2 linked regions of the Homo sapiens genome follow. The protein of the gene in region 1 purifies or fractionates together with the protein of each later gene. This does not show direct contact. Each region holds a gene or a part of one and is shown in the gene's direction. Other genes may lie near its edges.

Region 1 (5,894 bases):
ATATTTTCACTTGAATGACAGAGTATTTTTTAGTTAGGTAAGGAAATACTACTTTTTCTCTCTTACCTATCCTGCATGATAACACAGTTGTAGTAAAATAGATAATAACTTTTTCAGCTTCCAGCACTAAAATTTGCAACTATTTTTTATTCTTTTATATGCATCTCATAAGTTGCTTATTGTTTGTTTCTGTCTAATACGGGGCAGTCTACAAAATGTAGAATTGAATTTTTACTGAGAAGTGAGAATACCAGAAAGTCTTTCTTCTCTACACTTAGTAGATAATATGCAACATTTTAAGAAGTGTTTGAATCTGTTTTCAAAGAATAACGTTTGTGGAAAAGTCTGCATATATATATATATCTATGATTACCTTTTCTTATCTTTATTGGATATATTTTTTGAAGCATAATGCTGATCAAATGACACTTCAGAAAACATACTAATTTGCAATGCCATGGACTGATTAAAAAGACAGCCACTTCATCTTTTTCTAGGATATGCTGGCTTTTATGAATTTTATAATTTTTTAAATGTCTATTAATCTGCAAATGGTGACTTTATATAGATTTTTACTTTTTCAACTTCTAGCAAGGTTTGTTAATTTTAAGTTTACAGAAATGACCTAACTCCCCAAACATTAGATAATTTATGAATACAACTATGTATAAACATTGGTGATTTATTAAATCATGGTAAACGACAACAAAATCGGTTAGTATGGCAACCATGTTAAAAATAACTTTCAGGCACCATTAAAGATAATTATGCACATAATTATTGTATAAATAGCAGCCAGGTGCCATGGCTCATGCCTGTAATCCCAGCACTTCGGGAGGCCAAGATGGGCGGATCACCTGAGGTCAGGAGTTCGAGACCAGCCTGGCCAACTTGGTGAAACATTATCTCTACTAAAAATACCAAAATCAGCCGGTCACGGTGGCAGACACCTGTAATCCCAGCTACTCGGGAGGCTGAGGCAGGAGAATCACTTGAACCTGGGAGGCAGAGGTTGCAGTGAGCCGAGATCGTGCCATTGCACTCCAGCCTGGGTGACAGAGGGAGACTGCATGTCAAAAAAAAAGTAACAATAATTATTATTATTGTGTAAATAATTATTATATAATTTTAAAAATATGAATACGTAACATTGTTATAGATAGTTATGTACATATATATGTAAAGTTTCAGTTTTAAAATTATTGAAAAGGGTGGATAAATAAAAAACAGATTTTATTTTCATATAAATCCATCATTAGGAAATAGTCATAAAATAGTAAAAATAAGTTAAACAGGCCGATACAGCTAATTATATCAACCATTATATATACAATTTTGTGAAACACAATTGAGTTCCTTGTTATACTTTTTTAAACAAGAGAGTGACACAGCACAGATATGTTGGTAATCCCAGTTAATGTTTTATCTTTGAACATATTCAGACAAATAACGGCTAGGCACTTAAGCAATTATAATTTTAAAACAGAGTGAGAAACAAAATTTTAAAGTTAGCATGTGGCCCGGTGCAGTGGCTCACGCTTGTAATCCCAGCACTTTGGGAGGCCGAGGTGGGCAGATTACCTGACATCAGGAGTTTGAGACCAGCCTGAGCAACATGGTGAAACCCCGTCTCTACTAAAAATACAAAAATTAGTTGGGGGTAGTGGCGGGCGACTGTAATCCCAGCTACTTGGGAGGCTGAGGCAGGAGAATCGCTTGAACTCCAGAGGCAGAGGTTGCAGTGAGCTGAGACCGAGCCATTGCACTCCAGCCTTGGCGACAGAGCGAGATACCGTCTCAAAAAAAAAAAAAAAAAAAAAAAAAAGCATGTGATAATATGTAGTGAAATAATTGTTACACTTAAAATATTTCTTTGAATAAACAGTGTTAAGTCAACTTTCTTGCATCTCATTCCAAACTTGTCTGTTGAGCTTTGAGCCCTCAAGTCTGGTTTTCAATACTTTATAAACCTAATCAGCCAATTTACCCCTTTCTACGCAATCTAATCAACCTCAGGAAGTGGGTGTGGTCTTTCGTGGGCCCATACACTTTAAAAGGATGCTTGTCCAGAGATTTCTCTCTCCTTCAGTGAGGACCCACTGGATTTGTGGCTGCTGGGCTTTGAAGAGCCAGGAGTGACTTCTAATCTGGATATCTACAGAGTTTCTAGACTGAGACCATTCATAGTAGCCTTGTGAGTATACAGTGTGCAGCAAAACCATCATGCTCACTTTTACTCTTAAACATGCTTTAAATTTACCTGGCAGCATGCTTGGGTCTTTTCTAAGCAAACAAATGACTGTCTTAGTGATTTTACAGAAAATCAATATAAAGTATCTTCAATTTGTAAGATATGGTTTGTGTTCCCTTGCTATTTGACTATGTGACTGTTTTCTGTATTGTTAGATTTTTCTTAAGTGTGAAAAGATATATTTCCATAGTTTCATGCAATGATAGAACCCATAAAATACCTAAAATGTTCACCAGAATGTGGGCATGTAGTAGTGGTTATAACGTAAGCCAAAGCGAACGTTAAAAATGTTGAATTACTTTGAAAATTCTTGTTGCAAAGGTCTTATTTGCTGTCTCTTCAAAATTTGCAATTTGCAGACTAGATTTGAAAGCTGTTGAAAATAGATTTAATCGGCTGGGCATGATGGCTCATGTTTGCAGCCTAGCACTTTGAGAGGCCAAGGCAGGCAGATCGCTTGAGGTCTAGAGTTAGACACCAGCCTGGCCAACATGGTGAAACCTAGTCCCTACTGAAAATCCAAAAAAATCATCCTGGCGTGGTGGTGGGCACCTGTAATACCAGCTACTCAGGAGGCTGCGGCAGGAGAATTGTTTGAACCTGGGAGGTGGAGCTTGCAGTAAGCCGAGATCGTGCCACTGCACTCCAGCCTGCGTAACAGAGTGAGACTGCATCTCAACAACAGCAACAAAAAAAAAAAAAAAAAAAGAAAGAAAAAGAAAGAAAGAAAATAGATCAATAGATCTAACCAACTGGCAAGGGCTCCCAAGAAGCTGCAACTTCCAAGTCACTAAGCGAAAGGTGAATTGGCGGCCATGCTTCCATTAACTGCATTTCTGGATTTTCTAGTGTAGAGTGGAAAACCTAATACATATCTTCACTTTTTTTTTGTTATTTTAGAAGATAATTAGTTGTTGATTAATTCTTGTTAATTATAGTTGAAATATTGGCTATTTCAGAATGTGAAAGTGTTCTCTCTAATCATCAGAATTGACAATGGGAAAAAACTTTCCTAATTAAAAATAATAGATATTATTTACATTTAATGTATTGAAAGGAAGAGTTTTGATATTAAAGTTAAAAGGACAAATTTAATGGTTGATAATTTTAGGAGTTGACAGTCCACTGTGATTACTCAATCTTAGATAAAAGCTACTTTATTTATAATTGTCTGAGCAAACTTCATAGGTGAGTTTGGAGGCAGGGAGTATAGAATAATACCATAGATACTAAGTGTCTTTCATATATTATCATCATGGAATTATTGAGAGAGATAGAATGACAGAAACAGGATGACATTCAGAATGTGCTTCTTCGTTAATTAGCTTACATAAGTGACTCAGAAATCATCCCAGCTTTTACCCTCCACCCAGGCTTTAAGCTTGTCTAGGTAACTGGGAATGACTGAGAGCACGGCTTGTTTAACAAAAATGCCATGAGGACTGTTGTCTCATTTTCTCATTTGCATCACAGTTGTTCGTTGTTCATATTCATAAGTTTCATACCCGTGGATTCAACTAATCTCAGATAAAAAATATTTACAGGGTGAAAAAAGCAGCTGTACTGAATATGTACTTTTTTTTTTTTCTTGAGACAGAGTCTCACTCCATTACCCATGCTGGAGTGCAGTGGTGCGATCTCGGCTCACTGCAACCTCCGCCTCCTGGGTTCAAGCGATTCTCCTGCCTCAGCCTCCCGAATAGCTGGGACTACAGGCACGTGCCACCACGCCCTGCTAATTTTTTGTATTTTTAGTAGAAACGGGGTTTCACGGTGTTAGCCAGGATGGTCTCGATCTCCTGACCTCGTGACCTGCCCGCCTCGGCCTCCCGAAGTGCTGGGATTACAGGCATGAGTACCGCGCCCTGCCAAACATGTACATATTTTTAATCTTCTTGCTGTTCCTAAACAGTATGGCATTACAAGTATTTATACAGCATTTACATTGTATTAGGCATTCAAAGTAATCTAGACATAAAGTATTCAGGAGGATAGGTTTAGGTTACATACAAATTCACACCATTTACTAATAAGAGACTTGAACATCTTAGGATCTTGGTTCTCAGGGAGTCCTTGACCGAATCTTCGATGGCTATTGAGGGAAAACTTTATAAATCCAGCATGTATGAATTTACTATGTCTCAGTTTGTGCTGGAGCTAACTTATTAGACATGCTGGACAGAGCTCAAGTAGACAAGGAAAATTGTCCACCGGCCTTTCTTTCCTTTTCATCGGGGTAAATAAAAATAAGAGAAAGAAATTCTCACTTTTTTTTTTTTTTAATTTCCAGAAACATGGATTCAGACGACCTGCAAGTCTTCCAGAATGAGCTCATTTGCTGCATTTGCGTGAACTACTTCATAGATCCGGTCACCATTGACTGTGGGCACAGCTTTTGCAGGCCCTGCCTCTGCCTCTGCTCAGAAGAAGGCAGAGCACCAATGCGCTGCCCTTCGTGCAGAAAAATCTCAGAGAAGCCCAACTTCAACACCAATGTGGTACTCAAAAAGCTGTCTTCCCTAGCCAGACAGACCAGACCTCAGAACATCAACAGCTCAGACAATATCTGTGTGCTCCATGAGGAGACTAAGGAGCTCTTCTGTGAGGCTGACAAGAGATTGCTCTGTGGGCCCTGCTCTGAGTCACCAGAGCACATGGCTCACAGCCACAGCCCAATAGGATGGGCTGCTGAGGAATGCAGGGTACGTGATGCCTCTAAGGCAGTTTGAATTATACAGAATCCCAAATAAGAATGATGAGGGCCTGTGATAATGATGGTGATGAGAATGCAGATGGTGGAGGTGGTGATTATTCCATGTCAATCATAACACATAAATGTGTCCTTTCAATGTTGCTGGCTAATTTGGCACTCTAATCATAGCTGTGTTGAGACTTCGCTAAAGGAGGTTTCCTTAGAAACATTGTTCAAACGTGTAGAATGGAGCTGTGGAGCTGGTGGCCAGCACCAAGAACACTTTTCAAAGTCAGGTTATCTGAAAGCCAGTTTCTCAGAATATTGATGATATTATCTGAAGGGTCCCTTAAAACTCTCTATTATGTTTCTATCACTTTTCACATCCAAATTATTAGAACCAAATGTGTTTAACTTGGAAAAATCTGACCACTTCACTCCAACTTAATTTATGTTTCTTTCAATTACAGCCTTTTTTTTTAATTGATAAGGGTATGAAATCTACTATACTGTCTTCATTATTGCTAAGCTTCTTGCTTCTTTTGCAGGAGAAACTTATAAAGGAAATGGACTATTTATGGGAAATCAATCAAGAGACAAGAAACAATCTAAATCAGGAAACTAGAACATTTCATTCGTTAAAGGTAAGAATGAAAATGTTTTCTTTGTTTTTATGCAAATAAACACAATGTTAGCTTATACTTTTTAGCTAAATTCAAACTACCCGTTGCAAGATAGTGATTTCATCCCAAGAAAATGTAGTGATTTCAATTGATGTAATAGGAGTTGCAAACAGAGAAGCCCACACAAGCTAGCCAAATGAATTCTAGTATATTGGATAAACGGCATGATGTGTATTCTAGTTCAAATTTGAAGGTTGGTATAAACCTTTTCAGACACTGCAGATGAGACAACATTTCACTAAGTTTGGGTGTGAGGAAGACGAAAGAA
Region 2 (4,530 bases), on another chromosome or scaffold:
GAAAATGTGGCATTGATGCAGGGCATAAATATAACAGTGGAACAAAGTGTAGAATCTAGAAACAGATCCACTGAATGGCACAGAAATGGCCATCTGAGTCTGTGGGGGAAGGAAAAGACCAGTCAGGAAATGGTGCTGGGTAATTAAACTGATGGGGAAAGTTTTATCACTGTTTCCTGTCACATACCAAAGTAAATTCCTGGTAATTGAAAACCTGACTTTGAAATGCATTACCAAAGTCTTTTGAAGAAAATAACTTATAAACAGTAAAATGACTTCTGTCACAATGGTTATCTCCAGGAAGCGACCCTGGGTGGCTGGCTTCAGGGGTATAAAGGAGATTTTTCACTCATATGGTAGACATGTCACACTACAATTTTGTGTGACAGCATAAATTTTTAAAACCTAAAAGCATAGGAGTATGGCTAATAATTTGTGGTTCAACTATGTAATATAGGAGTGAAAATAAATAAACCCCAGCCTGGCCAATATGGTGAAACCCCGTCTCTACTAAAAACTACAAAAATTAGCTGGGCGTGGTGACACACGCCTGTAATCCCAGCTACTCGGGAGCCTGAGGCACAAGAATGGCTTGAACCTGAGAGGCAGAGGTTGCAGTGAGCCAGGATCATGCCACTGAGCTCCAGCCTGGGCAACAGAGAGAGACTTTGTCTCAAAAAAACAAAAAGAATAAACCAAAGCTATGTGTATCTATATGAATATTCTCACAAAGTTTAGTCAAAAAATGTTACCAAATAGCACCCAGAACAATGTCACTTACACAGCAATTACCAACACACAAAGTAACGGCTGTATTTTGTTGGTAGAGATAGATACATGTAATAGAAGCAAAAGCAGGTGGAAGTGGTAAGTGGCCCATTCAGGGTGTTGTCCCCCTCTAGAAGGGAGATGACATATATATACATATACACATGTGTGTGTGTCCCCCCCCCACATATATATGTATACACAGGCACATACATATATATATAAATAAATATCTAAAGTGCATATGGCAAAATGTTAGGGTTTGGTAAACCTGGGTGGTAGGCTAATGGATGTTCATATTTTTCTTTTTAGTCTTTTGTATGAGTCATTTCATAATATTTTAAAAATTAGGAGCTGTTGATTCTGATGTAGCCATGTCTGCTAGGGTCTCTGTTTTATTGTCATTCTGTTTTAGTTCTGTACCTTCCTAGCAGGTCACCTTATGCCCAGGAAATGGATCTGGGGGTTGGTTTTCTTTGTCCACCCCTACCCCACAGCTTCTCCAAGCTTCCACACACGGTCCCCCGTGGAGCTGCTGCTTAGTAATGAGACAGAGTCCTGGGAGCTGTTGAGGGTCTTTTCACAAAACCTACCAAAATCCCAGCTGCCAAATTGGACCCAACTGGCTTGGCCGGGCCATGTGAATTAGCAGATATCTTCTGTGTCTAAAGAGTTTGGGGCTTCCTCTTACTTTTGTTCCCCGAATCTTAAGAACAGAAGAAGAGCCATTCTCTCAAGATCTTAGAGGTGGGCCAGTGAGTTCAGTCTGTCCAGCCTCTGCGCAGCCTCCTACATCCTTCCCTCTTGGGGCCTTCATCTTTTTGTCTTACAGTCTGAGTATGTTAGCAATATCGTAGTCCCCCTTTATCTATGGTTTCACTCTTTGTGGTTTCAGTTACCAGCAGAAAGCTGTGGTCTGACAATATTAAATGGAAAATTTCAGAAAGAAACTCTTCCTGAGTTTTAAGTTGCATGCCATTCTGAGTAGCGTCTTGCCTGGGATGTGAACGATCCCGTGTGCAGTGGATTCACGCCGTCTGTGTTACCTGCCTGTGCGTCACTTGGTGGCCCTCTCAGCTTTCAGATCCACTGTCTGGTATCACAGTGCGTGTGTTTGAGTCACCCTTACTTTACTTAATCATGGCCCCAAAGTGCAAGAGTGGTGATGCTAGCATATGGTTATAATTGTTCTATTTTATTATTGTTAATCTCGTACTGTGGCTAATTTCTAAATTAAATTTCATCATAGGTATGTAGGTATAGGAAAAAAATAGTGTATATAGGATTCAGTATTACTGCAGTTTCAGACCCACTGGGGGTGTTGGGAAGTTTCCCAGAGGATAAGGGAGGACCACTGCAGGGAGTAAAAGTACGTATTTGACAGAAGTTTCTGGAATTGACAGAATATAGATCCCTGTGGTCAGACCCTACAAGGTATGGGTGGGCACACATCTGCCCTAACTCTGGTGCAGTGGAGGAAGCCCTAGAAGAGGTTTCTGTTGGGGGCCTCTTATCATGGTGTGGATTTCAGGAGCAAATCTCCCGGAATGCTGATTGTGAGAACCGAATTTGAGAGGCATCCCTGGCTTCATCATTTCTGTGAATCAGGGATCTCCCAGCATGATGTTTACGCCTCACTGAAGCTGACTCTGCAAAGCAGCAGAAAGGTTGTTTTTCATTTCGATTTCTTTGCTGTCCGTGGTGGTATTGCCTTAGCCTTAAATGTTTCAGTGTATTACTACTTAAGACTAGGGCTTTTCATTTTCTTGTGAAAGATTTCTTTTAAAAAATTCTAACTTGGGAATTAGTGGTGGGGATGTAATTTCTTTTTCTGCAAAAGTTGGGAAGACACATTTGTGCTGCTATAAAACATATATTTGTGTGCGTTGCAAAGGAAAAATATTCTCCCGAGTTTGTTTTTCTCGATTCTGGGTCCCAACAGAGAATATGTTTTTGTATTCTGTGTTTGCCTATGTTGAGTAAGATTAAAAGTTCATTTTCCAGCCTTGGCTTTTCTGCTGGAGTTTAGAAGTTGGAAACCACAAGGCTGCACAGAGCCCCACAGTCCTCGGCTGTGAACAGGCCCCGCTTTGTGCGTGGCTGTTCACTGTGTCACGGTCTGCAACCAGTGCCAATCGCGACTCGGTAAAGACCACCCCTCGAGCACATGGTTGTTGGGAAACGATTCGGGGTTTATGGAGCCTCAGTGAGGGTGACCCAGGCCCCTAATGTTCGTTTCTCTAGAGAAGGGGAGTGTTTTAGAGGATTTTTTATTTTTTTTTAAATAGAGATGGGGTCTCACTATGTTGCCTGGGTTGGCCTTGAACTCCAGAGCTCAAGCGATCCTCCCTCCTCAGCTTCCCAAGGTGCTAAGATCACAGGCTTGTACCACCATGCCTGGCCTTAGGATTTTTGAATGTAGTGATTATAATGTGGTGTCCATTTTGGCAGAGTTCTGAGAAATCTTGTAAGTACCCAGAGGAGTTTTGGTTGGTGGGTACCTGCCAAAAAGTGAGGGTTGACTGTACCATGTTCCAGACCTTCTTGTCCCCATCCTCCTACCCACTGAATCCATCCATGGCTGAGCAGGGTGCGATTTCCTTTTTAACACCCAGCTTGAGAGTGTGTTCTCGGAAGGCCAGTTCCTGGTATCCTCCCTCGATGATCAAACGTGAGAGTGCCCTGGCTGTGGATCACACTGTCACTGCCCACGGCCAGAGGTCAGAACCCATTTGGAAATATAAATGCTGCCTTACCCAGGATTCAAAGGCCTCCATGAGCTCCCCTAAGACTTTGTAGAGGTTAAGACTGGAATGAAAAGTGTGACTCAGTCTCGCTCAACGCCGAGTGACAGTGTGGGAGAAGTGTGTTGCCACAGCAGCTGATAGAGTTGTCCCCAGGGAGAGCATATGCTAGGAAGTTTCTTCGTCATGAGTGTTTTAAACCCTCTTCTTGTGAAGGTCTTAGAAAGGTCAAAGTAATGTGTTCCTTCTGTGATGAGAGTGATTTTTTTTTTTTTGAAAATTTTTTTTTTGAGACGGAGTCTCGCTCTGTCGCCCAGGCTAGAGTGCAGTGGCGCGATCTTGGCTCACTGCAAGCTCCACCTCCCAGGTTCATCCCATTCTCCTGCCTCAGCCTCCCGAGTAGCCTGGACTACAGGCACCCGCCGCCACGCCTGGCTAAGTTTTTTGTATTTTTAGTAGAGTCAGGGTTTCACCGTGTTAGCCAGGATGGTCTCGATCTCCTGACCTCGTGATCTGCCTGCCTTGGCCTCCCAAAGTGCTGGGATTACAGGCGTGAGCCACCGCGCCCGGCCGAGAGTGATTTTTCTTAGAACACAATGCCAAGACATTGAAAACAGTCTCCCTTCTCAGTCCCTTCTTTAAAATGCCCTCATGTCAAAATTTGGATTTGATTCCTACTCTGTTTCCTTCCTCTATAACCACTCAAGAGGAGTGGGGATCTCAATGTCTTAGGAGAAGAATCTCAGTATCTGAGCCACTAAGCAGCCTGGACCCAGTCTCCCACAGCATCTAGAGGTTTTGCAGGGCAATGCTGGGGGAGGCCTGTCCACTTCCCCTCCTCTCCTCTTCCACCTCCTTTTACCTCCCCTTAACCACCCCTTCTTACCCTTGTGTTCTCTTTGCTCATTCCATCGATCTTCTTTAGAGAGACTCGGGACTGGCTTGAATGTATCCAAATAAATACACCTCCTGGAGTTCCTCAGTGAAGTCGAACTTAGCCCGGGCTGTGGCAGGAAGG

The links. Proteins that work in one complex are often made in the same cells at the same time.
Region 2: the proteins of TRIM64 (region 1) and RRBP1 purify together in Homo sapiens (affinity purification with mass spectrometry, with the first as the bait; one large-scale study listed by BioGRID). This does not show direct contact.

The regions. Positions count from the first base shown.
Region 1 is NC_000011.10:89,963,959-89,969,852, forward strand, and holds the start of TRIM64 (tripartite motif-containing protein 64), read left to right. Parts: upstream 1-2,078; 5' UTR 2,079-2,194; intron 2,195-4,541; 5' UTR 4,542-4,545; coding exon 4,546-4,953; intron 4,954-5,491; coding exon 5,492-5,587; intron 5,588-5,894.
Region 2 is NC_000020.11:17,661,535-17,666,064, reverse strand, and holds part of RRBP1 (ribosome-binding protein 1), read left to right. Parts: intron 1-4,530. UniProt on the Homo sapiens protein: Acts as a ribosome receptor and mediates interaction between the ribosome and the endoplasmic reticulum membrane.